4 linked regions of the Homo sapiens genome follow. The protein of the gene in region 4 interacts with the protein of the main gene of each other region in a pairwise test. Each region holds a gene or a part of one and is shown on either strand. Other genes may lie near its edges. The genes, in order: TMEM207, SLC30A4, CACNA1C and NSG1.

Evidence for each region.
Region 1: the proteins of NSG1 (region 4) and TMEM207 interact in binary tests that used the Homo sapiens proteins (3 or more experiments, as listed by UniProt).
Region 2: the proteins of NSG1 (region 4) and SLC30A4 interact in binary tests that used the Homo sapiens proteins (3 or more experiments, as listed by UniProt).
Region 3: the proteins of NSG1 (region 4) and CACNA1C interact in binary tests that used the Homo sapiens proteins (3 or more experiments, as listed by UniProt).

The regions. Positions count from the first base shown.
Region 1 is NC_000003.12:190,446,898-190,454,791, forward strand, and holds the start of TMEM207 (transmembrane protein 207 precursor), read right to left. Parts: upstream 3,005-7,894; 5' UTR 2,913-3,004; coding exon 2,838-2,912; intron 931-2,837; coding exon 893-930; intron 1-892.
Region 2 is NC_000015.10:45,519,754-45,527,636, forward strand, and holds the start of SLC30A4 (probable proton-coupled zinc antiporter SLC30A4), read right to left. Parts: upstream 3,003-7,883; 5' UTR 2,854-3,002; exon of another isoform or gene 2,716-2,853; 5' UTR 2,602-2,715; coding exon 2,211-2,601; intron 1-2,210. UniProt on the Homo sapiens protein: Probable proton-coupled zinc ion antiporter mediating zinc import from cytoplasm potentially into the endocytic compartment. Controls zinc deposition in milk.
Region 3 is NC_000012.12:2,048,631-2,055,986, forward strand, and holds the start of CACNA1C (voltage-dependent L-type calcium channel subunit alpha-1C), read left to right. Parts: upstream 1-4,356; 5' UTR 4,357-4,932; coding exon 4,933-4,981; intron 4,982-7,356. UniProt on the Homo sapiens protein: Pore-forming, alpha-1C subunit of the voltage-gated calcium channel that gives rise to L-type calcium currents. Mediates influx of calcium ions into the cytoplasm, and thereby triggers calcium release from the sarcoplasm.
Region 4 is NC_000004.12:4,411,082-4,418,101, forward strand, and holds part of NSG1 (neuronal vesicle trafficking-associated protein 1), read left to right. Parts: intron 1-6,153; coding exon 6,154-6,354; 3' UTR 6,355-7,020.

The sequences.
Region 1 (7,894 bases), on a different chromosome or scaffold from region 4:
CATCACAAACAGCATAAGACAGAGTGAAAAAGCAGTTCCAAAATTAACGTAAAGAAATAGCAATCGAGAGCCATGCAAAAGCTGAAAGAGCAGCACAAATTTAATAAGCAGATTGTTAACAATAAGAAGATCCACCAGAAGCAGGTGAATGGTCCCAATTTCTGCTGTGAAATACAGTCATAGCCTCCTGCTATACAGAGAGCATGGCTTTGAGTGTAACAGGCAATGAAGACTGAAAACAGCTGCTAACAGTAAGGGCTGCAAGCAGGAGAAGATAGTGCTGGGTGGAAGTGCTTTTCTGATACTAAATCACAATGAATTACAGATATTAATTATCAGTATCATTATTAATGGCACCTTCTCTTCATCTCCTGAATAGAATTCTGAGAACCATTAAGTCTATCGCACAAAAAGTGAAAAAATTGAGTCAATTGTTCACATAATTCATATCACAAGCACTTTGAAATAGACACACAGTACAGGTTAGAATTTTGGTCAGTTTGCTTGTATTTTAAACTGAGTTATACAGAAAACTGCCTCCCTTGGTCACTGTGATTTTTGAGTGTGGATGAAGCCATAGATGACATCATGATTCTTTTATGAACTTAAAGTACCCTTGAAACCTTAAGGAAGATAAATTCAGTGTGCAAAAATATCTAGAAATCAACTAGGCCTCTTATTTATTTAACAAAGCTGATCGTAATGAAAATTATCTTTCCTGTTTTCAGAAAAAAAAATGGAGCCATCTGCATTTACAAACCATTTACTTTTCTTCTGATTATAATGATCATTTGAAACTCAACTGGGCTTTTTCTAATGGCTTGAGCCTTTTTTATACTTTGAATTTTTTAAATGCGAAATAAAAACATGGAGTTTTTCGCTGTTTACTTACATTTCATCTTCTTCGCATGGTAGGTCCGAGAGCACCAACTGAAACACATGTTTAGAACAATAAAATCCAAACATCTCATCAGTCTAATCCTTTAATACAAGCAGCGCCTAGAGACAATGTGGGTTTATATCATTTCGTTTGCTTTTTTAATTAAAAGCTCTATAGCAGAGTTTATTGTTGGTACACAGAATTTTAATTGAAAAAATCTCTGGGTGGATTCTTAAGCTCAGCAGTGGCAGAAGATATATATTGTGAACCAGATTCCATTTCTACATACCAATATAAATGGATTTTACGACAATTTTTGTTTTTTCTATATGCAGATTTTGCTTGCTCTAAAGAGCTTTTGTGCACTTTGCATTTTTTGTTTTCATGTTGTAGCTAGAGGTCAGAGGTTCATTATTAGTGAGTATTATTTTCACGCAAAAAAAAACAAGTTCCAAGTACATACATGGAAACAGAAGTCAAGCCTATTAGCATTAATGGGCATTAAATATATATTCATGAAAGGGCGACTTTAACCTGCTCTAAGGGTAAGGTCCATTTAAGATCACATGACATTCCAGTTGAGATTTACAGTCTTCTCTTTATCAGAGAAGAGAAAAAAAGTAATCATCTTTGTTGCTTTGTTTGAAAAGTCCAATACTATAAGCATTCTAAAATAATGCTCTTAGTTATCTGCACTGAGTGTCATAGGTTACAACATCTCATATACTAAATCACAAGGAAAAAGGCACTTCTTTCTAAAGATCTTATTATCTATTTGCTTGCTTGACCCTTTGAACCAGGACTCCTTCCTTGTACAAGGAGAAAGTCTTTAAACGGCATTTATGTGTAGCTCTGAACACTTAGTTGATGAAGTCAGTTGAAGTATTTATTTTCCTGGACTATAACACGCAAATAAAAGTACAAGTAAGAAGTTACAAAATTTAAAGTGATAGACTTGGGAGTTCTGTGTGAGATGTGTCTTTTCCCCCCTTAATCCCAAAAGCATCTTCTTCAGCACCTTGTATTTACTCCACCAAGTTTATCTGGGCAAAGAGATTTGTGGAGTTGCAGATGGAGCCATGAATTGGCCATCAGAGAGCATGGTAATGAACAATTTATAAGCACAGAAAATGAGTTGCATTCTTTTTTGCTAGAATGCTGCAAATAGATTTGCATACTAAGTGAAAGGAAAATGAACATTCACATTTTGTCCATAAAGAAAGTTTATTTATGAGTAGATGAAATCGTTTGGGATCCAGCTTAACAGATAAACAAATAAAACCAGTATTTCACTTTCAAGTCACTTCCGTGTTTTTTCTGTGTGTTGTACCCTAGCAATAGTACACAGTATTAAATTATTAGCACCTCACTGCCAACACATTAGCTGTCAAACTTCCAGTTATTATGAAGAGGTAAGGAAAGCTATAATTTACTTTAGATCTAAATCTTTCAGATACCTTGCATTGAAGTCACACAGATCTAGAGATGCACGTGTTAGTCAGAAGGGGATGCTGGAGCAGAGGAACTGAAATAAATCCTAAAATGGTTCTGTCTACATCAGTCAGCATTGAAAAACTGTCAAGCATCAAGTATGGTTGTAGGCAATAGTAAACATGTCTTAAATTAATCTAGCCATAGCATTTTGTTCTGTGTCAATAGCATTTTGAATTTAAAAAATTACAGCATAGCAAAGTTAAACAAAGGTTAAATTTGCAATCACGTTATTTCAGTAGCAATAGAACTAATTGAAGGAGAAATAAGACTAATGCCTTGGACATTTTGTTTTGTCCCTCTGACCAGTGAATACAAGAAATCATAAGATGCTAGTAAAGCTTGAAGGAAATCTTTTAAATGTAGAAGCAGTTAAGTTGCTCACATATAAATCTATAGCAAATCAAGTCCTCAGAGTACCTCAGAGTACCTCTGAAAACCTTAACCCAGAAAGAGAGATAGTTACCTGGAATAGCGGCAAACACAAGATCCCTATCGTTGAGATCGCTGAGGTGACACTGAAAAGTCTGGATCTTGACATATTTAAAGGACAGTCAACTTAGGATAGTGGTTTGGTGCCTGTGTTTATTTCCTTCTTTCTCAGAACTTACTAGCTTCTCTATAAGTTATGCTTCCTACCAGGACATGCATTAATAATGGCTCCTTGTGACTCGTAAAGTGCATGCTAGGGGAAGGAATGTTGGGTACATGTTTACAGGTACTAAGAGCCCAAGGAATTTAAGTTTAAGGTGAGAACTTTAGCACTGTTTGTCAAGGCCTTTAAAAGTAGGGGTTATAAATGCTGACCTACAGAGCTAGCTGGCTACTTAATAACTTTCCACATTCAAGTGCATGTTTTATTCCAGGGAACTTCTGGGTTTCTAATAGTATTTCATATTTGGAACATTTATTCAATTTTCTTCCCTTTGTTGGTACTCTTTGTTCTCCTACACACCATTTTCAGTTCCAGGTCTAACCCAAACTTAGGCATAAAGCTTTCCTTGTTTTATTGTGATAATACCCCTCTTTTAAACAAGGTATATTTCAATGTTTATTTTATGAAACAACTCCATCACTACCACTGAAAAATAAAGCAAGAATATCTAGGGAAATTCTGAGAAAAAGAAAAGGCACTAACCTATTGTACATTAAGATGTCTTAATCTATGCATTTTACAAAAATTAGTACTGATATGTGTAAATAATAAGGTAAATGTAAAAGAGTAGAGAGTTTAGAAATGGAGAGTTTAGACTCAAATAAACAAATTTATTTAAGCTTCCATTTGAAACTAGTGGAGAGAAGATGGATATCTTTCAGGGTATAATGAAGAGCTAAATGGTTATGTGGAAAGAATGTAACAAATGATTGTTAAGATGCTTAACCTCAGTCATAATTAGATAAACATACCTTAGAATTATAATCAGATTGGCAAGTTCAAAAAATTGATAATATAGGGAAGAGGGATAAATACTGGGAAACAAATACTCTCATATACGGTTGGGAAAACTGTACAGCTTATTTGGAAAACAAGTAGGCAATATACATCAACATAAAAAATAAATATGCCCTTAGAGCAAGAATTCTCCTTGCAAGATACATGAATGTACCCCTTACACATGGCACAAATTACTATATGCAATGATGTTCATCGAAGCATTGTTGGTGTTAACAAAATATTGGAAACAGCAAATATTCATGAAAATGTGACAGACTAAGTACAAAATGGTTATATAAATTCAACAGAATACTAGGAATCTGTTTTAAAAGGTGGAGACAGATCACAGATGCTGATATAGAGAGGTCTGTAATAGTTATTGAATAAAAGGAACAAAAATCACAGAACTTTGTGTACATCATGTCACATTTGTATGCAAAAATAGGAAGGTAGAGCTATAGTATTCTCTCCGTACACAAAACTTATGCATATATACTTATATATGCATAGGATGTCTCTGCATGAAACTGCTAACAGTGGTTGCTCTGTGAAAGGGAAATTGCAAACTAAGAAGACCAGAGTGGGAAGGAAATTTACTTTTCACTGTTACTTCCTTGTATTTTTGATATTTTTTACAATGTCTATATGTCATCTAATTATTTTTTACATATATTCACTTCTAAGAGCCAATTTTGAAGGCAATGATCCACAATGCAGAATGAGAATATCGTAATTCAAGCTCCAGTGTAGTTCACCACATCCAATTCAAATTGTAATGTATGAACCCATTTACAATCACACACATAGATTGCTCTAGAAACAAACCAGCAGTATTAGGTATCTAAACTACTGCACAGAGTTGGCCATCGCGGTATATGGACTAGTTGAGCTGCATCTGGATGGGTGAAGCCGTCTGTGTGGTGACTACGCTCTGTTTAGTATGCAGCCACGGTCGCAGCCATGAATTTCAAAGCAGAGGAAGGCTTGGTGCCAATGCCAATAGGAGAAAAGTAAACCAAACCTACAGTATTATTTATCCCCCAGATACGCTCCATTTTGAGTGTCTCTGAAGCCTGTAATTAAACAGAATGAAAAATAGGCTTTTCACTGGTGAACTTATTTATTAGGCAGTCAGAAGCCTGACTTCCGTCGGTGGAGTCAATGATCTTAAGAATTTCTGGGAAAGGAAGAGGCCAGATGACTAGAGAAGAGACAGAATGGAAATAAGGGCAGCATATTTGGTTTTGCCTCAGAAACTGCAATAATGACCAACTACATACATGGATTAAGTAATTATTGTCAAAAAAAATGCATGATTCTGCAGCAGCTGCCTGATTAGGAGTATGGCAGCTGAATGGAGATGGAGTCTATAGTCACAATAGTAATGCAAACACAGCAATTATATTTGGTGCTAAAATCAAAATTTATATTCATTTCCACCTTGCCATTTATCCATTTACTTCTGTGACTTTCCCATGCCACTTCCAACGTCCAGCATAACAGTTTCTAAGACAGTAGTTTTTCTAGTACATTTCCTTCCTAGCATCATGAGAGTTTGGTGGTTGTGGAATACAAAATCTGACCATGAGTGCAATTTTACCTGCAAAATTTTTTTAATAGATACTTAAAATTAAAATAGCTTATTTTGTGATAAATTTAAATTCACAGGCAGTCTTAAGAACTACTACAGAGATCCCATATACTCTTCATTTAGCTTACCCCAGTGGTAGCATCTTACATAACTGTTATACATTATCACAACCAGAAAATTGACATGGAGGCAATCCACCATCGGCATGATTTTAAAAAAATTTATATGTACATAACAGTCGTTCATATTTATAGGGTACATGTGATATTTTATCACTTAAAATGTGTGATCAATTTTGTAAGTCCAACTACATCCTTATGTGCATGAACTTGTGGTAGTGAATTGTCATCACTGGAAAGTCAAGCTGAAGATGGTTGACTGCTATACATAGCAATATGGTCTCTTAGATCACTAAGATTCTAGGGACTTTTTATGTTTGATTATAAAAATAGAAGTAGGCAAAACTTGAAAAGAATCTGTAGAAGAAGAAAGAGGACATGCACTGTGATAGTGTATAAAATTCACCCAGTACTTGGATGGTGGACCTTTTATCTACATCTTTGTTACAAAAGAATGGACACACATATATTCAACTTCACAATTCTGGTTATTCACCTATCTCTTTTCTTTGTGAGAAGAGATTAATCCTTCCGAAATGGCTGGAGTTCAGGAAATATGAAAACTATCCTCTGGATTTGGAGCCTGACATAAGTCAAAATTCCCTGAAGCTCTGAAGTCATATCAATATTTGTCTTTAAAGGTCATGGCATGCAGCTCTTCGAAAGGATTGAGGACCAAAATTCAAGGAATTAAGCGAGAATAAATAAAAGGTATGAATAAAAGTGGGCATGCATAAAGGAAGGTCCAAAGAGCAAGCAAGGGATCACCAGCTACTCTCTTTATCAAAATTAAAGGCACAAGTTAAGGTTCTAGGAGTTAGGAAGCCTTGGTCACTAATAATCAGCAGTATGACAATAAACAGTTATTTATAAAAACTGCATTTTCTAAAATAATGATAATAATATTGAATTATCTTTCTCTAATAATTTCATTAAAGATCACATTGAAAATATCAACATGAAATCAGATATAGCACAGATGTAAGATGTTGATTACTGGAGCATAAAACACAACAAAATACAATAAAATAAACGAGAATTTCAAAATTAATTCAGAGATCCATGGAAACAATAGGAGTTGAAGTAATATAAGGAGGACATAAAATGAGGCAGCAAGCTGTCGGAGTCTCTAGTTTCTCCATTTGCTTCTTCTCCCTAGTGAAAGGAAATATTGATTACATTGCCAAATCCATGGTGAACTTTTAGTCATCTTACTTTAAGTAATGGACAACATTTGACACAGTTAATCACTTCTTGCTCCTTTACCTTCCTCACTTGGCTTCCAGAATGATATCGTTTTTGATTTGCCTCCCAGTTTGCTGACCATTTCTATTCAATTCTCTAGACCTGCCATGTTAGGAATTCCCTAAGACTCAGTTCTCAGACCTCTTTCTCTTCTGTATATATCCACTTTCTCAAGAATCTCAGTCAGTTTTACAGATTATCATCCATAAAGTGACAACTCTGAGATTTGTATCTTCAATCCAGATATTTCCCCTGAACTCATGAGATTAACTGTCAACTCCATGTCAGTTGGCTGGGGAGGAGATTGTTACGATATTTAATATAGCAGCTGAGGAAAACATTACTGAGAATGTGGCATTTCAGCAATGACCTTAAGGAAGTGAGGAAGTAAGCCACGTGGAAAATGTGGGAGGTGCATTTCAGACAAAGGAAAGATCAAATGCAAAGCTCCCTGAGACAGAAGAATGCCTGGGAAGTGTGTGGAAAAGCAAGAAGGCAGAGTGTGCCTAGAACAGACGGAGTTGAGCGGAGACTCTCAGTTGGCTGGGGAGGAGATTGTTGTGATGGCAGCTGAGGAAAACATCACATGTCACATAATGTCCATATCATCATTGGATATATTAGACTTCTGCAAAGTAAACTTAACCCAAACCTAGCTTCTCATTTTGCTTATCTCTTCTCTATCCTTTGTGTTTTCTCCAAATATTTCCTAGATCAGTAAGTTAAAGCCTTTTCTTTTTGTTTTTTCAGACCAAAAATCTTATAAATATTTTTTAGTTCTCTCTTTCATATGCCATACCTAATGTATCAGTAAATCCTGTAGTCTCAAATTTCAAAATATATACAGACCCCCAGCACTTTCTACTACCTTGACTAACAACTTTTTACCTAACTTACTCACCAACCACCTTCATATGTTACCAAAATTACTGCCAGTAGGTTCTTAGCAGGTACTTCTGTTTTTCCACTTGCCCATCTGCAATATACCCTCAATATAGCAACTGGAATGATTTTTTTTTTTTTGAGACAGAGTCTCCCTCTGTCACCCAGGCTGGAGAATGCAGTGGTATAATCTTGGCTCACTGCAACCTCCACCTTCCAGGTTCAAGTGATTCTCCTGCCTCAGCCTCCCA
Region 2 (7,883 bases), on a different chromosome or scaffold from region 4:
TTTACTTAGGTGAAATAAACTCTGAATTATTAATCATTTTAAGGGGGGATGCTGTGATTGTTATTTTAACTTCAAATATTCAACGTTAACTTCAAAAATCATTAAACCTGAATGACTCAATATTCTAGTTGTGTTAGTTTGGGCAAGTCACCGAATCTCAGTCTGCTGAGACCATGGTGCTTTATCTGGGGCACAGGTTGTCTCCTGTCTTTTAATTTCTTTACAGCTCAAGCATTTATAATTATCTAACAGAATAAAAATGAATTAATTCAACAAGTTTATTGAGTATCTACTTTGTGCCAGTCACTGTTCTAGGTGCTAGGAATTCAGCCTGTATTTCAGTGGAAACAGGTAATATTAAATGAGTAAATAAATAAGATATCTCAGATGCTGAGGACTTTGAAAGTTGGAGAGGGAACAGGGAACAAAAGAGATTTACTTTAGTCAGTCAGAAAAGGTCTCTCAAAAGTGTGGGTTTTTTTAATTTTTATTACTTATTTATTTATTTATTATTTTATTTACTTATTTTTTTTTGAGACGGATTCTCACCCTGTTGCCCAGGCTGGAGTGCAGTGGCGCAATCTCGGCTCACCACAACTTCCGCCTCCCGGGTTCAAGCGATTCTCCTGCTTTAGCCTCCCAAGTAGCTGGGATTACAGGCGCCCACCACAACGTCCGGCTAATTTTTGTATTTTGTTTTTAGTAGAGACAAGGTTTCACCATGTTGGCCAGGGTGGTCTCAAACTCCTGACCTCAGGTGATCCACCCACCTCGGCCTCCCAAAGTGCTGGGATTAAAGGCGTGAGCCACTGCACCCGGCCGGGGTGTCTTTTTAAATAAGACACGAATGACAAGAAACTGGCCAAGAAAAGATTTGGGAAAGGCAGTCTATGTAAAGCAGTGTTTTTCAAGCTAAGGCCCTGACCTACTGCAGTGGACACACGAAATCCATTTAGTGAGCTGGGACCACAATTGAAGAAACTATTAGGATACATCACATGAAGGAAAACTTTTGTTTCAGTTATACATATATTTATACACATGTGACCTGTGTATATTCTCATACATATGTATGCATGCATGCCTAAATGAGTCACAATGTGAAGTGTATTTCTTACTACAGTGAGGTCAAAAAATGTTTGAAAGCCACTGAGATAGAAGGACCAGCCACTTTGAACGCCTTAGAGGCAAAAAGAGCTTTGTGAGTTGTAAGAGGAAAAAGAAGACCAGCATGGCTGAAGCGAGCCCTGGGGAGGAGTGTTATGAAAGAAGGTAGGAAATGTATATAATTTTTCCCACATAGAACCCTCCAGTCAAACATCTTAAATCTGGACTGCCACCTGTTTTTGTCATGGTTCATCATTTAAGAGATGACATGTAAGAATCATCTCCCTGCTTTTATGTCACTTTGTAAACTGTCACTGAGAAGTTAGTAGTTATACTGACGTGATTGAAAATAACCTCTAAACTAAGAATGTATCTTATATTGAGAACGGATTGTTCGTATAATTAAAAAATGAACAAGAAAACCAGGCTCATAGAACTTTGGCGGAGTCCTCTGGTTCATTTCAGGCCCTTCTTACGAGGCAAAAATTTCATGTTAGTTGGTAATTAATTTTGCAAATCTCTTGGCTATAAATACAAAAGGAAATCGTATAAAAGAAACCACTTAGGTCAAATGTAGAGGAAAAAAATGCTGGGACTGTAGATGTGGCTCTTCCATTAACTCCCTAAGTGGCCCTCACGACTTATTCCACTGGTTTGTGCCCTGGAAATCCTTACATGTAAAAAAAAAAAGGAGGTGGAGCAGGTGTTCAGTAAGGTCCCTTCATACTGTAAAATTCTATGATCTTAAGTTATTTACGATCATTTACTATTTTAAACGTTGCGAAAATTAACCTGGTATTTTACCAGACCTTTGTAAAAAGAGGAAGTTACATGACATACAATGAAGATAACGTCCTTAACTTTACGGTAGATGACAGTGGTTGAACAACTAGAAGAGAAAGTCAAAGTTATCTCGGGGAGTTTATATTGTACTTAGATTGAGCTGCACTTTGGAACCGTGTGGCCTTTTCACATGAGATCAGTGTCTTGATAAATACAAACTTCCTGAAAAGATGGGTTAAACCTCAAAGCCTGTGTAACTACAGCTTGACAAAGACTCTCGAGGAAAGGTAAACGGAAAGTGAGTTGGCAACACAACTCACCTACAAGTTCTCCAATCATGAAAAGCAAGTACAGAACGGCAGCAATGGTCAACCTGGCTTTCACCTTTCTCTGCTTCAGTATCTCTCTCTGTTTGCTGCAGTTGTCACAGGAGTCCACCTTCAAACTCAGCTGACTGTTGGTCAAAGGTAAGTCTTGGTCCAGTAAGGAATCATCGTCGGCCTGGAGGGTCGGGTGCGCCCCGTTAACAGGCCTTTCCGGGGCTTCGGAACCGTCATCGGCCACCACAACTCGAAGTTTGTTGAACCGAGAAAGCCCCTCGTCCCCCGCCTCATCCGAGAAGTCAAAGGCGCTGGTGTCATTTAAAAACAGCGGCGCATCATCCTTCCTTAGCATAGATTTGAGGCGCTTCCACGCGCCAGAGCCGGCCATGGCAGAGGCTGAGCGGCCGCGGTGCGGAACGGCTTGGGGGAGGCGGACGGCCGGCGGCGCCTACTTCACCGGAGCGCCAGTTCTCGAGGGCAGTGCCGCGCGTCCCTCCCCATCCTGTGGAAAACGAAACACGTTATAAATTAAAGGCGCCCAACCCTGTCCTCAAGTTCCGAAGCCGCTGGCGGCGGGTCGCAGGGCCGACCCCGACGCTCCGCCGGGGCTCCGCGAGGGGGCGGCACATCTATTTAATACCTGGGGCGCTGCCGCGGGGCCGCAACTCATCTCCCCGCCCCCGGCCGGCTCAGCGAGGCGGGCTCGCGCTGCTCCACCCGCGGCCGCAGGAGAGTGGGGTCGTGCTCGCGCCCGCCGCGCCCGCTGCTGGAGGCCGGCTCCCCAGGTCTGACAGGTTCGGGGCCGGACGCCCACAGCCACCGCCTCTCCCCGCCCTGCGCGAGGCCACGCGCGTGCGCCGGGCGAGGCGCGCGAGGGAGGGGTCGGCGCGAGGACACGCAGGCCTGGCGCGCAGGGCTGGGGCGCCCGCGATGGGCGGGGGCGCGCGGCGCGCCCCGCCTCTCGCCCCGAGGCTGGATTGGGGGCCACTGCGCCGCCTCCGCCCAGGGGTCACTCACTGGCCAACTGAGGGGACTTTGGGCGGCCTCTTCCACCTTCCCAGGCTGGGAGGCAAGTGCGGTCGGAGGGTCACGCCGGGGGCTGGGCGTTGCTGCTAGGAGTTCCCTCCACCGAAAGTGTGTCTCAGGAATCTCGGGTCGGGATCTGGGTTGCGGGTGCTCGGCAGAAGACAAACCCAGCACTTTTCTTGCTAACTGAAAAGGCAAGCAGCTTTTCTCTCCTCGAATTGCTTGTCTCTGGCAAATTGGCAACATTTGCTGCAGTCAACTGGAGAGGGCAAGGCTGTCGTCGTCAGCAGTTCTGTGTCCTACTGTTTTTCAGCAAATATGTATTGTCCTCTTTGTGCTCTCTGCCGTGTTCCTTTTGCCTCCAAGGTATTTACGATATGGACTAAACTCAAGCATAGAAAATCTAGTACAGGCATACCTTGGAGATACTGCGAATTTGGTTCCAGACCACCGCAATATGACAAAGTGAGGTCTCACAAATGTTTCATGTCCCAGTGCAAATACAATCATGTTTATAATGTAGTCTATTAAGCGTGTAATAGCGTTATGTCTAAAACAATGTGCATACCTTAATTTAAAATATTGGGAGAGAGGAAGGAAAAAGTATATATACATTTGTTAATTGCTCTGAGGAAGGAGGGTCGCATGAGCCCAGAGGTTCGAGATTACAGTGAGCTATGATTGTGCCTCCGCACCCCTGCCTGGCGACAGAGTGAGACCTTGTCTCTAAAAATAAACAAGTAAATAAAATACATGACTGCTAAAAAAATGCTATCAGCTGGGCGTGGTGGCTCACGCCTGTAATACCGGCCCTTTGGGAAGCCGAGGCGGGCGGATCACCTGAGATGGGGAGTTCAAGACCAGCCTGACCAAAATGGAGAAACCCTGTCTCTACTAAAAATACAAAATTAGCTGGGCATGGTGGCGCATGCCTGTAATCCCAGCTACTAGGGAGGCTGAGGCAGGAGAATCGCTTGAACCCGGGTGGCGAAGGTTGTGGTGAGCCGAGATCACGCCATTACACTCCAGCCTGGGCAAGAAGAGCAAAACTCGGTCTCAAAAAAAAAAAAAGCTATCAATCATCTAGGCCTTTAGCAAGTCATATTCTTTGCTAGTTGGAGGGTCTTTGCTCCTTGTTAATGGCTGCTGACTGATCTGGATGGTGGCTGCTGAAGGTTGGGGTGGCTGTGGCAATTCCTTAAAATAAGACAACAATGACATTTGCTATATTGATTGACTTGTTTTCATGAAAGAGTTCTTGATGGCGTGTGATGCTGGTTGATAATATTTTACCCACAGTGGACCTTTCAAAATTGGAGTCAATCCAGTTTTCTCAAACCCTGCCTCTGCTTTATCAACTAAGTTTATGGAATATTCAAATCCTTTGTTGCCATTTCAACAGTGTTCACAGCATCTTCACAAGGAGTAGATTCTATCTCAAGAAACCACTCTCTCTGCTTATCTATAAGAAGCAACTCCTCATCTGTTCAAATTTTATGAGATTGCAGCAATTCAGTCACATCTTCAGGTTCCACTTCTAGTTCTCTTGCTATTTCCACCACATCTACAGTTACTTCCTCCATTGAAGTCTTGAATCCCTCAAAATCATCCATTAGGGTTAGAATCCACTTCTTCCAAAATCCTGTTAATATTGATATTTTGACCTCCCATGAATCACGAATGTTCTTAATGGCATCTGGAATGCTGAATCCTCTCCAGAAGTTTTTCAATTTACTTTACCTAGGTCCATCAGAGGAATCAATGGCAGCTATAGCCTTATGAAAGGTATTTCTTCTTTTTTATTCATTTATTTTTATTTTTAGATGGTGTTTCACTCTTGTTGCCCAGGCTGGAGTGCAATGGCGCGATATCGGCTCACCGTAACCTCTGCCTCCCGATTTCAAACTATTCTCCTCCCTCAGCCTCCCAAGTAGCTGGGATTACAGGCATGTGCCACCACGCCTGGCTAATTTCGTATCTTTAGTAGAGATGGGGTTTCACCATGTTGGCCAGACTAGTCTCGAACTCCCGACCTCAGGTGATCCACCTGGGTCGACCTTCCAAAATGCTGGGATTACAGGCATGAGCCACCGCGCCCGGCCAGTCACCCAGGTTTTGTTCCATTTATAGAGCACAGGTAGAGTAGATTTAGAATAATTCCTACGGGCCCTAGAATTTTCGGAATGGTAAATGAGCATTGGCCTTAACTTAAAGCTACGGGCTGCATTAGCCTCTAACAAGAGAGTAAGATTGTCCTTTGAAGCTTTGAAGCCAGGCATCAACTTCTGTCTAACTATGAAAGCCCTAGGTGGAATCTTCCAATAGAAGGCTGTTTCCCCTGTATTGAAAATCTGTTGTTTATTGTAGTCACCTTTAATGATCTTAGCTACACCTTGTGGACAACTTGTTGCAGTTTCTCCATCAGCATTTGCTGCTGCTTCTTGCACTTTTATGTTATGGAGATTGCTTTTTTCCTTAAATCTCATGAACCGACCTCTGCTAGCTTCAAACTTTTCTTTTTTGTTAAAAAAATTATTTAATTTATTTATTTTTAAATAGAGACAGGGTCTCACTATGTTGCCCAGGCTGGTCTGGGTATTTCTAATTTCCTTCAAGAACCTTCCCATTTCCCAGAGTCAAGTGATAAAAGTTTAATACAAACAAACAAACAAACCCAAACAATAAAAAAGAACTTTTCATTTGCATTCACAACCTGGGTAAGAAAAGGCATAGTGCAGGGCATGGTGGCTCACGCCTGTAATCCCAACACTTTGGAAGCCTGAGGCAGGCGGATCACCTGAGGTCAGGAGTTCGACACCAGCCTGGTCAACATGGTGGACCTCTACCATAGTAGAGACAACCCTGTCTCTACTAAAAATACAAAAATTAGCTGGGTGTGGTGGCATGTGCCGAGTAGCTCCCAGCTGCTTGGGAGGCTGAGGCAGGAGAATCGCTTGAAGCTGGGAAGCGGAGGTTGCAGTGAGCCTCGCACCATTACACTCCAGCCTAGACGACAGAGCAAGACTCCGTCTCAAAAAAAAAAAAAAAAAAAGAAGAGGCATAGCTTTCAGCCTATCTCAGCTTTCTTTCTTTTTTCTTTCCTTCCTTCCCTTCCCTCCCTTCCCTTCCCCCCTCCTTTCCCCTTCCTTCCTTCCCCTTCCCCCCTCCTTTCCCCTTCCTTCCTTCCCCTTCCCCCCTCCTTTCCCCTTCCTTCCTTCCCCTTCCCTCCTCCTTTCCCCTTCCTTCCTTCCTTGCCTGCCTCCCTCCCTCCTTCCTTCCTTCCTTTCTTCCTTCCTTCTTTTCGTCCTTCCTTCCTTCTTTCCTTTTTTTGGAGTGCACAGGCACAATCATGGCTCACTGAAACCTCTACTGCTCAGGCTCAGGCAATTCTCCCACCTCAGCCTCCCAGAGTGTTAGGATTATAGGCGTGAGCCACCATGCCCATCCTTATCTCAGCTTTCCATATGCCTTTCTCACTATGGTTAATAATTTCTAGCTTTTGATTTAAAGTGAGAGATATACAACTCTTCCTTTCACTTAAACACTTAGAGGTCATTGTAGGGTTATTAACTGGCCCAATTTTAATATTGTGTCTCGTAATAGGGAGGGCCAAGGAGAGGGAGAGTGAAGGGGGACGGCTGGTCAATGGAGCAGTCAAAACATATACAACATTTATCAGTTAAGTTTGTCATCTTATATGGACAAGGTTCGTGATGTCCCCAAATAATTACAATAGTAATATCAAAGATCACTGATCACAGATCAGTATATCAGATATAATAATAATGACAAGGTTTGAAATATTAAGAGAATTACCAAAAGGTGACACAGAGACATGAAGTGAGCCCAGGCTATTGGAAAAATGACGGCGACAGATTTGCTTGACACAGGGTTGCCATAAACCTTCAATTTGCAAAACTGGCAATATCTAACAAGTGCGAGAAAGTGAAGCACAATAAAACAAGGTGTGCCTATAGAGGTGTCCTTTTGGCTATTGGGTCTGTTTCACAAAAAAAACAAAAAACAGCCAGATGCAGTAGCTCATACCTGTAATCTCAACACTTTGGGAAGCCAAGGGGAGAGGATCTCTTGAGGTCAGAAGTTTAAGACCAGCATGGGCAACATATTGAGACCCCGTCTCTCCAAAAAATTTTTTTAAAGCCTCCAAGGAATTGGCGGTTGCAGTGAGCTATGATTGTGCCAGTGTACTCCAGCCTGGGTAATAGAGGGAGACCCCATCTTTAAAAATCAAAACAAAACAAAACCAAAAAAAGAGGAAGAAGAAATAATTGTGGCTTTTTTGTTTTTTGTTTTTTTGAGACAGGGTCTCGTTCTGTTGCCAAGGCTGGAGCGCAGCGGTGCGATCTCGGCTCACTGCAGCCTTGACCTCCTGGGCTTAATCTATCCTCCTGCCTCAGCCTTTTGACTAGCTGGGACCATAGGTGCTTGTCATCATGCCCGGCTAATTTTTGTATTTTTTTCCTTGTAGAGATGGTTTTTTGCCATGTTGCCCAGGCAGGCCTTGAACTCCTGGGCTTAAGTGATCCTCCTGCCTCAACCTCCTGTAAGTGCTGGGATTACAGGTGTGAGCCACCATGCCCAGCCAATATTTAAATTCTGTAGTAGCTTCTGATTTAAACCTAA
Region 3 (7,356 bases), on a different chromosome or scaffold from region 4:
GCAGCATTTAGTGCTGAGTGGCTGTTGTGGTGGGCAGAGGGAGAGAAATAGAAGGGACACCTTGCAGACTTGATGGGAGACTTATTCTGAAGAGATTGATTAGCAGTGTTGTCCCTGGCTAGGCAGTGGGGGGAGGGCTCTGTGTCAAGAGGTGTGTGTGTGCTAAGGGAAGAGGAAGAGCCTGCTTGGCAACCTGGCTTTTCAAGCCTTGGACCAGACAGGGAAGAAGAAGAAGAAGAAGAAACATTTACGTGTAATCCCACCTCCCAAAGACAGCTACTGTCAACACTTTTTTTCCCCACCTGCCCCAGATTGAGGATACTGTCAACATTTTGGTGTGAACCCTATTTAGTCTTTTCCCTAGTTCAAATATAAACCTGACTTTAAAAGGAAAATGAAATCATAGTGCCTGTAATATTTTCGTGACTTGTTTTTCTTTTAATGTAAATCATCTTTTTCCACGTTACTAATATTCTTCCTTAATATTGTTCATGTCTATGTAGAATTTAACTGTATGAATGCACTCTAGTTCATCTATGCGGTGGTTAAGAGCGTAGGCTCTGAAGACTGCTAGGGTTCAAATCCCAGGTCTTTCAACATCAACTGGCTGTGAAACATGGGCAAGTGAGTAAACGTTTCTGTGCTTTGGTTTCCTCACCGGTAAAATGTGGATAAAAGCAATTCCTTCACAGGGTTGTTTGGAGGAGCAAATGACTTTATGTATGTGAGGCACTTAGAATAATCTCTCAGTGTTATTATTTAACCAACATTTTTGTTGAATATTTAGTTCATTTCCAGGTTTTCACTCTTACAAATATACTGTAATTAACAAATTCAGTGCACTCTTAATTGCTTCCAAAGAAAATATCTGTGGTCACATTTAAAAATCTTTTCCAGAGTGAATCATGCACTCAACACAAATTGAGTGTCCATATGTACAAGGCATTATGTTATGCACAAAGAATAAACACAGTTCTCTTCTTGAAGACACCTAAAATGTAGTAAGGAAGAGGAGAGAAAAAGGCTCATGCAAATATAAGCAAAATACTATGCAGAAAGAGGGCACACATGAAGACCTATGGGAGATTCTTTAGCTGGAGAATCAAATCATTCAATGACAGAGAAATGCAGACTCCCTCCTCTGCTCCCACCACCTCCCAAATCCCCAAATCGGAATTCACAATGGTCTCCTTTTGTCATGTTGAGAATTTGTTACCTCGAAAGAGCACACCCAGGGCTGTGTTCCAAAGTTAAAAGCTGGGATATGGGCGTATACTGCAAGACCAAATATTTAGGAAATACCTTTTTCTGGAAAGGAAAGAACACATTTCACAGCTGAAAAGAGAAGTGAAAAATGAAACTAAAGAAGCGTGGAGGTAATATTTACTTGCTAGATTTATACAGTGCCTACCTTTAGAAAAGCTGGGCTATAAATCCTGCACGTGACCCCCTAACACACATACACTCTGTTCCCAGTGACTTGGCTCTTTGTGAATTATCTGCAGCATATTTTGCAATCATTTCACCCTGTTCATCTCCCTGCAGCCCTGCCCCCACCAGCTCACCCACACTTCACCCCTCAGAAGAATGAGTAAGATAATAGTAGAGACTGAGTTTGGTGTCAGATATGCCTGGGCTAAGTCCAGGCTCCACATTTACTCAGCTGGGTGACCCTGGACATTGTAATTCAAGTCTCGAAGTCTCAGTTTCCATATCTGTAAAATGGGGATAATCATGACGATAACACATAGCTTATTGGATCGCAGTGAGGATTAAATAAGATAAAGGCTGTAAAGGGCCTATCACAGTACCTGGCACAGAGCACTCAGTAGTGTTAGCTATTATTATTATTCCTGCACTTGTGTGTAAAGGGGATGCAAACCAATTTTACTATTCATTTAAACAAATTATCAGCTACAGCAGCCTCTGAAACACAGGCCTATAATGCATCCTAAAGTAAATGCGAAATATTTGAATTTGTGTCATTTCTAATTTTCTCTATTAAGTTGAAAATTGAGTATGAACACACCAGAATGGCAAAGAGGCCAGATTTCTCTTGTAACCAACAAAATTGAGATCGCTATTAACATTAGAATGAAGATGACCGAAACAGCTTAATACTTCTCCCAGGGGCACTTGCATTTTACACTGGGGCCAGAACCACTGGACAAAGGAAGGAAACAGGAGTGGTAAGGTTTCAGGTACCAAGGGACGGACAGATGCATTTTCATAGGGGGAATTGCAACACTCCTGAAAGTATCTCAGGCACTCACTCATTTATTCAATACATATTATGTACTTACTATCTGCCAGATACTGCTCTAGGCACTGGTGAACAAAATAGATGAGACACCTGCCTTCATGGGGGTTACATTTTAGTGGGGGGATACAGACAATAAGCAATAAAGTTAATGAATAAGTAAACTATATAGTATGTTAGACAGGATTTCAGTAAGAGTAAGGGGAGATAGGGAGCGCTGTGGGGGTCTGTCAGTACTGAATCAGGATGAGGTCCTGGTGAGCCTCACTGAACAGGTGAGATTTGCGGAAAGCCTTGAAGAAGCCGAGGGAGTTTGTGTTTCAGGCAGTGGGAATAGCTAGAGCAAAGGCCTTACAATGTGCGTGTGTGTTGAGGGGTCATTCCTGGAGTGTCTGGGGCCCAGCCAGGAGGCTAGTGTATCCCGAGTGAGGGGGACAGCAGTAGGAGATGATGTAAGGGGATTTGTACTCAGCCATTCCTGTAGGTCACCACAAGGACCATGGCTTTTACTAAGTGAAATGGGTAACCATGGATGGTTTTGAGCAGAGGAGTGCTGGGATGTGATGTTTTAAATGGGTTACTCCGACTGCTGTATTGAGAAAATACCAGAGGGGAGAGGGAAGGTAGACCAGGGGGATCAGCCACAGGAGAAACCTGGGTGAAGGATGCTGGTTCAGCCCCAGGTGGTGGCAGTGCAGGAAATGAGAAGTGGTCAGGTTCTGAATTCACCTGAAGGTAGGGTCAACAGGATCTCCTGATGGACTAGACGTGGAATGATGAGAGAAAGGAGTCAAGAGTGACTCCAGGATTTTGAACTGAGCAACTAGAAGTATGGGATGGTCATCGACTGCGATGGGGAAGGCTGTGTGAGGAGGAGCAGGCTTTGAAGAGATCAGGAATCCAGTGTTTGGATGTATTAGGCTTGAAATGTCTATCAGACGGAGTCAGCTGTAGTCTGGAATTCAGGAGAGAGGTCTGGGCTGGAGATAGACATTTGATATAGACAGCTGCTGAAAGCCACGGGAATGGTTAGGGTCACCCAGGGAATGAGGGTGGATGTGGAGGCGAGGAGGTCTTATGTGGAGGCAGGTAGAGGTTTTCCCCAAGAGGGAGTTGTAGGCCCCCCTGAAAGGGATCACGAAGCCCCACTGGAGGGGAGCCCGGTCCTGCAGGGGGTGCCGTGGAACTTGCTGTGGTTGCAGGGAGTGATGGAGGGAAGTGTTTGCTTCTCCGGGAAGGAGAGGTGCTGGATAGATTCCTGCCGGAGTTGCAGAAATAATTAAGAGAAGTAGGTAAGGATATCCTAGTAGAACACGTGCTCGGCTGCCTCCAAGGAATTATTAAACCTGGGTCTAGGAATCTGTTCAGACATCTGGGCACCGCTGCCTCGCCTACCAGGCTCCGCCTCGCTGCCCCTCCCGCTTCCCCTCCCCTCCTCTATCTGTCACTTCTACAACCGCTCTGATTATAATTGATCAAACAGAATCACGGAATCACGGCTCATCTTGCCGTTTTGTTCAGTGGCCCGATCCGAAACGAGACTCTGGTAGTCGGGCAAATTGTATTCCTCCTCCTTGGAATTCCGCTCACAGAGGCCTTCCCGGCGTGGCCGGCCCAGCAGGGACGCGCCGCCGCAGCGGAGGAGAGAACGCGGGCGGGGGGCTGCAGGCCGGCGCGGGGGGCGCGACGCCGCCGGCGGGGCGCGAGGGGGTGTGTCCGCGCCGCGGCCACCGCGGCCACCGCGGCTGGCGCCCGGGTGCGCCGCGCGCCCCGGCCTCCCCGGGGGCTCCTCACGCCGCCCCTCGCCCGCCGGCGGCCGGGGCCCGCTCCCTTTGACGTCATGCGGGCGGAGGGCTCGCTCGGGCGGCGCTGCCGCGGGCGCCGGGAGGGGGCCCGACTTCGGGCTCCAGTCCGCCGCCGTGCGCCCCGCGCCGTGCGCCCGGCTCCCTGCGCGCCGCCGCAGCCACATCTGGAAGCGTTCAGCGCGTCTGCCTCCGGCGCGCCGGGCGGGCGGGCGGGCGGCGCGGGCAGGGGCGGGCGCGGGCGCGGCGGGGCTGGGCCGGGGGGAGTGAGCGCGGCGCTCTCGCGCGCCCGGTGTCTCCCTCTCGCTGCCTCTGCAGAAACAGCTCCTGCCAGAGCGGCGCTCGGCGCGGCGCGGCGGGCCCGGAGCGGCGGCGGCGGCTCTTCCTGCCTCCGCGCCCAGGAGTTGCCGGCTCCCTTTGACAGCAGAGAGCCGGGCAGGGGCCTCAGGAGGACTCGCTGGGAGTGGGCAGAGGCGCCTCGGCCCCTGCCGGCCCAGGCGGGCCCCGCGCGCCCCCCGCCCCTCCTCTCCGCCTCTTCTCGCCCTGCCTCTCCCGATTTATTTTTTCAAATGGTGTAGCCGCCGGAGGTGCGGTGCTCAGTTCTTGGAAGGGGCCCGGATGTACTGAGGATGCGTTACAGTTTCACTCGAGGAGGCAGTAGTGGAAAGGAGCAGTTTTTGGGGTTTGATGCCATAATGGGAATCAGGTAATCGTCGGCGGGGAAGAAGAAACGCTGCAGACCACGGCTTCCTCGAATCTTGCGCGAAAGCCGCCGGCCTCGGAGGAGGGATTAATCCAGACCCGCCGGGGGGTGTTTTCACATTTCTTCCTCTTCGTGGCTGCTCCTCCTATTAAAACCATTTTTGGTCCATGGTCAATGAGAATACGAGGATGTACATTCCAGAGGAAAACCACCAAGGTAAGGCTGGACCCCGCCGCCTCGCCGGGGCTCCCTGCCTTTTCCACCGGGTTCCTGCCCTACCCGCGCTCCCCGCGGCCCCGGGGCCGGTCCCTGCGGAGTGGCCCGGGGCCGCGTCCGCGAGGGGCGCCTCCGCCTCGTCGGAGCGCCCGGGAGCCCGGCGGGACCGGGGCCCGAACCGCCGCGCGAGACGGAGCGGAAAATTCCCGCCCCTCCCCCTCCGGGCCCCAGCTTCTCCAGAGCATGTGTTTCCTGTGAAATTCCAGGCGAGGGGGGAAAAGTTCCCCAAGTGGCTGCCGCCGCCTCGCTTTCTCGCGTCCGCCTGGAGAGCCCGGCTGCCTGGCCAGCCGCGCGGGGGGCAGAGGGCGCCGGCGCCGCGGAGCCCAGAGGCCCGGGGTCCCTCGCCCGGCTCGGGGCGCGGCTGGGAGCGCGCGCGCGCGCACCCTGCGCCGGCAGAGCCCGGCGCCCACGGCCGCCCCTGGGGCGCCCTCGCGCTGCCCGGCGTCCACTCTCGTCCAGGCGCCCCTGCCCTGGGCGGCGCGCTCCAGGTGGCGGGTGGGGGCGGCGGTGCAGATGTGAAGCCCAGCGCGCCCCTCTGGTTCCCCCTCTGTAGGTCCCCTTCTTCCTCTCTCCCTCCCTCCTCCGCCGCTCACCTACACCCACCCACCTCTCCACTGCTGTTGACCCCGAGCGCGCCCACGCCGCGTGTGTTCTCATTCGCACCCACATGTGGGCTAGCACCTGAGGATGGAAGCGGCGAGGAGCCGGGCGGTGTGTGGGCTTTGCTGTTTCGTGTTTGAAGGAGATCATGAAAGGGTGTGCCTGGCTCACGCGGCTCCATACTATTGCCCAGTGTTTTCCGAGCATCTCCATCCTTGGCCGCGAGTGTCACCAGCTCCCCCTGTGATGGTGAAAGGCAGTCAGGTAACTCCCTACTTCCTGGAAACTTTCTCCCTCACCGCTCTCCCCCCATATTAACAAGTTGTTTTCTTGGACGTTGCTTAGCATTTAAGGTTTTGGGGACGGGGGGTGCAGACAGGGTGGTCCAGCGGGGCTTTCTGGCAACCTCCAGGCATGACATCTCTTTCTTCTCGCCACTGCTCTGTCTCTTTGGGTGTAGTCTCTCCCTTTTCTCTCCCAGTTCCCAGAGCCTCCCTGTTTGCACTCTTCCTCTTCTCTTCCCCTGAAAGCCTATCTGTCACTGCTGGTCTCTGTTCCTTCCCTGGGTTCTTCCCAGTGATCCTCTGAAGACCAGCCTGGTGGAAGGAGTTGTCTCCAGGTCTTTTTGTCCAGCTTTTTCCCTCTGTTTGCTCCCAGCTCCACCTTTTGGGGACAGGGCCTTCACTCTTTAGAGCCAGAAGCTGCCATCCAGCCTGCCTGGTCTCCATCTATCCTGAAACCGATTTTGGGGCCAGTCTTCTCTGCTTTCCAGCATGGGTGGCAGCTTGGGGATTGTGGCCTCCTTTGGAAGAAAGAATCTTGTCAAGGGTCATGGGTTCTAGGGTGAGCCAGAGCTTTGGGGTCACAAGGGCAGTATCCATGTTTGGATTTCTCTACTGTTGACCCCATCCCTCACCTGATCCCCTCTCCCTTCTGTAGCTGATGGGCTAGTGAATGGTTTAGGAGGGAAGGAGTGAGACACAAAAGAGGGTGGTATTTGTGAAGAGTGGGGATGCAAGATGACTCCCCTCCAGGTTCTGAGACTGCGTGCTTTACCCACCTCCTCAGTCTAAGCAGCATTGAAGAGGAGAGCTCTGTAGTATTGCCCTAAGTATCACTGTCAATGGCAATGTACTGTGGTAATAATAGTGATTATTCACCTTATTCACAGGATGATAATCTTAACTAGTTTACAAGGTCTCCTCTTAGTGCAGGATAAACCCCTTCTGAACCCATTTCCTTACTCTGGTTGTTTTCTTTGGCCCCTTTGCCTCTCAGCATCTCCCTGCTGTATGCTGGGAGCAGACATTAAAAGTAGGAGTGCCAACCCCAGAGAGGTTCCTGAGAAAGGTAGAGGGGAAGGGAGCAAGGGAGCCAGCGGCTGAGAGCTCTACCTTTCCAGCAACATGCCAGCAAACGCTATGGCAACCTGAATTCCAGTTCTCTCCCTTGAAGCTGCAGTGATTATATAATTCATGGGAGCAGTTTTGCCTCCATTTCTAGATGCGGTTCCCAGGTGGAAGAGCACCAAGATCCCTGTCTCCCCTCTACTCTCCATCTTCTCTTCTTTAGTTGGTTGGCATTGCCGAGGTTGTTGGGGTAGGAGAGGGGAGGAGGGTGGTGGAGGTGGGAAGGGCAGACCTAGAACAGAATGAATATTGACAAGGAAGAGGTTGCTGTGGCTAATCACTAAAGGGGGCGGGTGAGCCATCATA
Region 4 (7,020 bases):
CTGACCTCAGGTGATCCACCCACCTCGGCCTCCCAAAGTGCTGAGATTACAGGCGTGAGCCACCACACTCAGCCAATAAACTTTTAAAATGTAAGTTTTTGACTCTTTTGTAATAACACTTAGCTTAAAGCTCAAACATCTTGCACAACTGTATATTATTTTTCTACATGTGCTTTTTCTATTAAAAAATTTTTTAATTCTTTTTTTACTTCCAACACATTTTTGTTAAAGCTAAGGACACAGACACACACATTAGCTAGGCCTGCACAGGGTCAGGATCCACAGTATCACCGCCTTCTGCCTCCACACCCTGTCCCACTGGAAGGTCTTCAGGAGCAGTGACAGGCACAGGGCTGTCATCTCTTAGGATAACAATGCCAGGCCAGGTGCAGTGGCTCACGCCTGTAATCCCAGCACTTTGGGAGGCCTAGGTGGGTGGATCACCTGAGGTCAGGAGTTCAAGACCAGTCTGGCCAACATGGTGAAACACCGTCTCTACTAAAAATACAAAAATTAGCCAGGCATGGTGGCGGGTGCCTGTAATCCCAGCTACTCAGGAGGCTGAGGCAGGAGAATCGCTTGAACCCAGAAGGCGGAGGTTGCAGTGAGCTGAGATCATGCCACTGCACTCCAGCCTGGGCAACAGAGGGAGACTCCGTCTAAAAACAAAACAAAACAAAACAAAACAAAACAAAACAAAACAAAACAAAACATTGCCTTCTTCCAGAATCTCTCTTGGAGGAGCTCCCTGAAGCTCTTTTAGAGTTAACTTTTTTTTTTTAATAACTAGGCATGCACTCTAAAATACTGATTAAAAAGTATAGTACGGTAACATAAACAAGTAACATACGCGTTTATTGTCACTGTCAAGTATTATGTTCTGTATGTAATTGTATGTGCAAGACGTTTATACAGCTGACAGTGCAGGGGGTGTGTGTATACCAGCACCTCCGCAAAGTGAGGAGTGTGTTGTGTTCCGTCTACACGGTGGCTGCGAGGTCACCAGGCGACAGGAGGTTTCAGCTCCGTGACAGTCTTATGGGGCCACCATGGCATGTGGTCCATCGTTGACCCAAATGCTGTTATGCCGCGTGTGGCTGTAAAACGCACTTGCTGGTTCCCCACAGGGAGGAGGGGGTGGCTAAAACTGCCTTCCCTATCCTGCAAGCCCAAGTCCCGCTGGATACCTGGCCTGGGTGGGAGATGACCCAGGAGATGAAGCCCCAGTCCTGTGTCCGGCTGCAGATGAGACTGGCGGCCACAATGGAAGGGGCCTGGCACCTTTTGTTTAAAAGGCGCTCCAGGTGATTCCCATCCACAGCCAGCCTTGGGAATTGAGAGTCCCCTGATAAGTTGTTCTGGAGTGATGTCCTGTGGGACTTTGGCATTTTCCACTAGCATCTAATGAGGGGGTGTCCTTTCCGGAGAAGGCACCTAGGAAGGCCAGGGAGCTGCTGGTCTGTATCCAGCTGCCCTTGGCCAAAGCTGGAGAAAGGAGAGGCGTGAGCTCATGAAGTCCCCTTGACCTCCTCCCTCCATATTTGTGCGTGTGTTTGTCACACACCAACGCTAGGCAGCTTGTGTGGGGCTTTTACACCTGTTGCTCACGGAATCCATACACTCGGTAGCTGTGGGCTCCCGTTATCCATACACTCAGTAGCTGGCTCTGAACTTCCCAGAGTCAGTGTGAGATGCTCATCTCCAGGGCTTGGCACTGCTGAGATTAAAATAAAGCAGGAGAAGCCAACTGTTTCTAGCACTGAGCACGTGCACAGGGAAGCCTGGCTTGGCAGCTGTCACTGGGTAGCTTGGGTTTGGGTTTCATTTAGGTTTTGTTTTTTGCTGATATGAGGACGCAGAGAGTCCTTACGCGATTAGCAGGAAAGGCTGGAATTCACGTTGTCCAGCCCAAGTCCCTTTTTCTCCTTGCACATCATGCTGTCCTTCAGGCTCCCGACATTCAGCTCTTCCTCCCTTGGGCAGGCATGTACATGGCACCCACCCCGTGCCAGCAGCTCTTGCTATTGTTCTAGGCGCTGGAACACAGCCGAGAGCCAGTCAGGTACAGCCCCCTGCCTTCACGAGGCTCTTACATTCTCAAATGAACGGTGAGGAAGTCAGTCGTACACTGAATGTGAAGGCTATAGACAGACAGGAAAGAGGGCCCAGGGGTTGGGCATGGGCATGTGGGCGGTAGTTTCTAGAAGGATGGTCCACATTGGAGGAGCGGGTCTCCAGGAGGTGAGCCAGGGAGCTTGCGGGTCTTGGGGGAGTGTGCCCAGCCAAGGAAAGCCCCCACCCTTTCACTCATGTTTTATTCAGCAAGCCCCGTCCACGCCCTAGGCTGGGGCTGGGAGAGTTTGAGTCTGTTTTGGAGGCTGAGAGGACACCAGGGCTTTACAACAAGCAGAAGCGGAGGGTGCGGGCTTCAGGGAACGAGGGCAGTGCTGGCCCTGACCCAGTGGGAAGGGGTTTGTGATGGTAGAGGAGCACAGAGGGAGCAGCGGGCAGTGGGGACGTGCTGGTGGGGGTGTGCTGGTGGGGGGCTAGCCACAGGCACAGGGAGGCGGCAGAGGATGAACCAGCTTACGGCCAGAGCGGGTGCATCCTGAGTGCCAGGCACAGGCCCCTGGAGGAGGGGGAAGTGATAGGGTGACCTCTTGGGTCACCTGGGGAGGCTGGAGATTGGAAGGGAGAGACGGGGCAGTGAGATGACCAAGGAGACTGCTGCAGTGGCTGAGGGAAGAGAAGACTGGGGCGCTGGGGATGGAGGGGAGACTGCAGACTGGAGAACTGATTTAATCTGGGAGGCAGAGGGGTAAAAGGAAAGGGCCTGGTGCAGAGCTAGTTACTGAGGGAGGCCGATGTCATGGAGAGGGAGCACGGGCAGGCCCAGGAGCTGGCCCTGAGCCGGAGAGAGGACAGCAGAGGACAGCTTCCTGGGGGCCGGAAGTCCCCACCGAAACTGGCTACTTACAAATAACTGAGGCCAGTGGCTTCACCAGCTGCCCTGGAGCTTCCTTCCTGGCTCATCCTCTCTGAGCCTGGAGCAGGTTCCCCACAGGGAGGAGGGGGTGGCTAAAACTGCCTTCCCTATCCTGCAAGCCCAAGTCCCGCTGGATACCTGGCCTGGGTGGGAGATGACCCAGGAGATGAAGCCCCAGTCCTGTGTCCGGCTGCAGATGAGACTGGCGGCCACAATGGAAGGGGCCTGGCACCTTTTGTTTAAAAGGCGCTCCAGGTGATTCCCATCCACAGCCAGCCTTGGGAATTGAGAGTCCCCTGATAAGTTGTTCTGGAGTGATGTCCTGTGGGACTTTGGCATTTTCCACTAGCATCTAATGAGGGGGTGTCCTTTCCGGAGAAGGCACCTAGGAAGGCCAGGGAGCTGCTGGTCTGTATCCAGCTGCCCTTGGCCGAAGCTGGAGAAAGGAGAGGCATGAGCTCATGAAGTCCCCTTGACCTCTTCCCTCCATATTTGTGCGTGTGTTTGTCACACACCAACGCTAGGCAGCTTGTGTGGGACTTTTACACCTGTTGCTCACAGAATGCATCCAGAAGCCCTTTGAGGTGGATGCTGTTATATCCCCATTTTACCAGTGGTTAGAGGGTGTACAGAGGCTCTTCGTGGAGCCCAAGGTCACGCCCTTCAGTTCACTTGGTACAGTCAGCATGTACTAAGTACCTCCTACTATGTGCACACTGGACTCGACACCTTGAGGGCAGGGACCTCAGAGCCCCAGGCAGTGGGGAGGGGACAGGCTTTTTCTGGACAGCCACTCCCAGTGGCCCCAAGCTGAGGCATATCGTGAGGAGGGTGAAAAAGGCAGACGTGGCCCGAGAGGACACTAGGTTTCTACCTCTGCCTTTAAAAAAAAACAACAACAACATGAAATTACTACATGTTTTATAAAAAAGTTTTAAACATAATGGGGAAAGTGCCCCAAATCCCACATTTTTATACTGGCTTTTCCCTTTATATTGGCCATTCTTTTTTTTCATGTAGACAGGTTACACGTTCTTGCTATGTTGCCCAGGCTGGTCTCGAACTCTTGGGTTTGCTCAAGTGATCCACCCTCAGCCTCCCAAAGTGCTGGGATTATAGGCATGAGCCATCGCACCCGGACCTTAGTGGCTACTCTTTTCCAGTGCTGACTGAGTGCTGGGTGCTGGGAACACACTTACGTAGCTACCTCAGTCCTCCCGTGCCCCACAAGACAGGTCCGTCATCAGCTTCACTTCACAGGTGAGGGAATGAGGCCCAGAGAAGTTGGGGAACCTCCCCAAGCTCCTCCAAGTGCAGGCCCAGCTGAGTCACGCTCCCCTCAAGGCACACACCCCACAGGTGAGGGTGGCTCTGTATGAGATGGGTATGGGGGGCGGCAGGAGCCTCTCAGAAAGCCTTCCCTGGCCCATGTGGGCTCACGGCAAGGCCTCTGCATTCTGCTTCCGTTGGGAAGCCCTTCACCCCCTGGGGTGCTCGCCACCATGGGCACCAAGGTGCCTCCCCAGCCTTGCCTTTGGGCAGCCACGTTGTCTGGGAGGCATCTGGGGACTCCATCTGTCCTTCTCCCTGGGCGGGGCACCTGTAGGGCAGGGCCGTTTCTGAGCCATCTCGTATGCCAGCCCTGAGCGGGGCCGCCACTCCACAGGTGTTGGCCGCATCAGGTCTTGCAGGACTCTGCTGGGTGCCGAGGTGGGAGGGAAGAGGGGAACCCTTGGTCCGTTTCCCTGAGGGATGACGAGCAGCAGATGGAGAGGACAGCGTGAAGGGGCGTGGCGGTGAGGCTGGAGGGGAGTTTGTCTGGCCTGCAGAGCCTCCTTCCTGATGCACGCGCTGCTGGTCTGAATGGGCTGTTTGTTCTGTAGCGTGTCAGGTGCTTCCCGACGTCCTGGTGGGACTGAGATCAAGACGCTGTTGATAAAAGGGCTGTACTTCAGTGGTGTCTTTTGGCTTTCTTTTCTGTCCACACTGTGACCTGGGGCACATCCTGGCTTCTTTACTTGAGCCACTGTGCATTGACTTGAGTCCTCAGCAACACGGTGGTGTGACTCATTGGCCGCATTTTATAGGTGAGGGACCTGAGATTGAGAGAGAAAACACTCCGCACGTGAACTCAGCTGGTACGGTGGGCCTGGCTCCAAAGCTTCCCTTCTCCTGTAGCGCCGCCCTCCTGCCAGTGGCAGCCCCTGAACACTGGATGCGGGGCAGTGTTGGTGAGAAGCACATTCCATTTGTCATTTCTCTTTTGAAAATAGCTCTTTGTTCACAAGGGCCTTGCAGGTATAAAGTATTCTCATCTTTAGACTTCAGGGTTCAATGAGCTGGTAACAGAGAATGGATTCCCCATGGGGGCTGGGTGGCATCAGGAGCTGATCCCTGTACACCTGCCTTAAGCCCGTGGAGGTGAGCCACTCACCTCAAGGACAGGCTGCAGCCACAGCTGCCAAAACAGGGAAAACGCCCCCGGCCCTGCCTGAACCACAGGGCCTGGCCTGCAGGGAATGGGGGTGTGGATTTGCTGCCAGAATCCGCTTCCTGATAAACCTCTGTAAGACCCAAGTGCTGTCTCGCACTCCCCCAACCCACGGCCCCTCCCTACCCCCTCGCCATCTTCCCAGCCCCTAGTCATGACCACCTAGTGGCTCTGTGTGCCTCTTCTGACTCCCGCCCCAAGGCCCCTCTCTGCTCTGGTTTCCTTTGCCTTGAGTGCTGCCCCTCCCTCATCTCACCTAGCTAAGGTCTGCTGAGAACCTAGCTCAAGGGAAGCTCTTCTCACTTCCCTTCCGTCCTCATTTGAATTGGTTGTTTTGGGATATTTCATAAGTTGTTGTTTTCCAATTGATTAAAAATGACAACTAGTGCAAGATCTTCAGTGAAGTAAGGCCTGCTGTCCCATTACACTGGCACCCTTGGAGCCCAAGTGCCCATCTGCCATGGCACTCACCAGCCAGTCTATTAAGAATAATCAAGGCCAGGCTTCCCCTGTGCTGTGCTCTCTCAGGGCAAGATCCATGCCCGTTTTTGCTCATCACTGTATCTATTCCTCCAAGCTCAGGGAAGGTGCTCAGTAACTGTTGGCTGCCAACTGGAGACACACTGGCACCCCCTCTTGCACCGACGCGTGCTCTCAGTGGCCTCTTGTCTTTCAGAACACCCAGTGCATCCCAGAAGGCTTGGAGAGCTACTACGCGGAGCAAGACTCCAGTGCCCGGGAGAAATTTTACACAGTCATAAACCACTACAACCTGGCCAAGCAGAGCATCACGCGCTCCGTATCGCCCTGGATGTCAGTTCTGTCAGAAGAGAAGCTGTCCGAGCAGGAGACTGAAGCGGCTGAGAAGTCAGCTTAGCGGGATGGGCAAGTTCCTTACAATGTGTCACTTGCAAATAACAAAGGGACTTTGAGGGACATTTCATTAAATATAATTACTGATACTTTAGAGGTTACTCATTTACGGTGCAATTGCTTCTGTTTGCTAATGCTGCTTTGCAAATAAAACTTGCTGCCGACCACCCACGGGCATAAAATCAAGTGCATTTCAGCATTGCCTAAAGAGCTCTGACACCACTTTTCATGTTAAGATCTTCATTTAGCTCCTTTACTGGGATTTATTGGATGCTGTAAAAAAATAAATTTACACTGGATATGCGAAGGGTTTGGATCTCAGATAAATGCATTTTGTGGAATTGATTTTCTGAACCGACCCTGCTGTCTGCAAACCTTCCTCCATAGCCATATCTAGAGTGATCTCTCGCTGTGCTAAGAGCAAGCCTACTTCGCATTTCTTCCTCGGCCATCAGCGGGTAACAGTGCTGACTGCTGCCAAGGTGCACTGTAGTAAGTAAGTGGCATAGAGAACGAGGAAAAAGACCCCCCCACCCCTCCCTGTGCTGACTCCTGAGTCGGGGTGGGACGGCCCTGCAATGTGGCAGGCTCGGTGTGGATTGACTACTCCCTCCCCTCTGACTCTGGCATCTTGGTAAGGAGGGAGGGGCACCACCCATCTGGGTGGAGA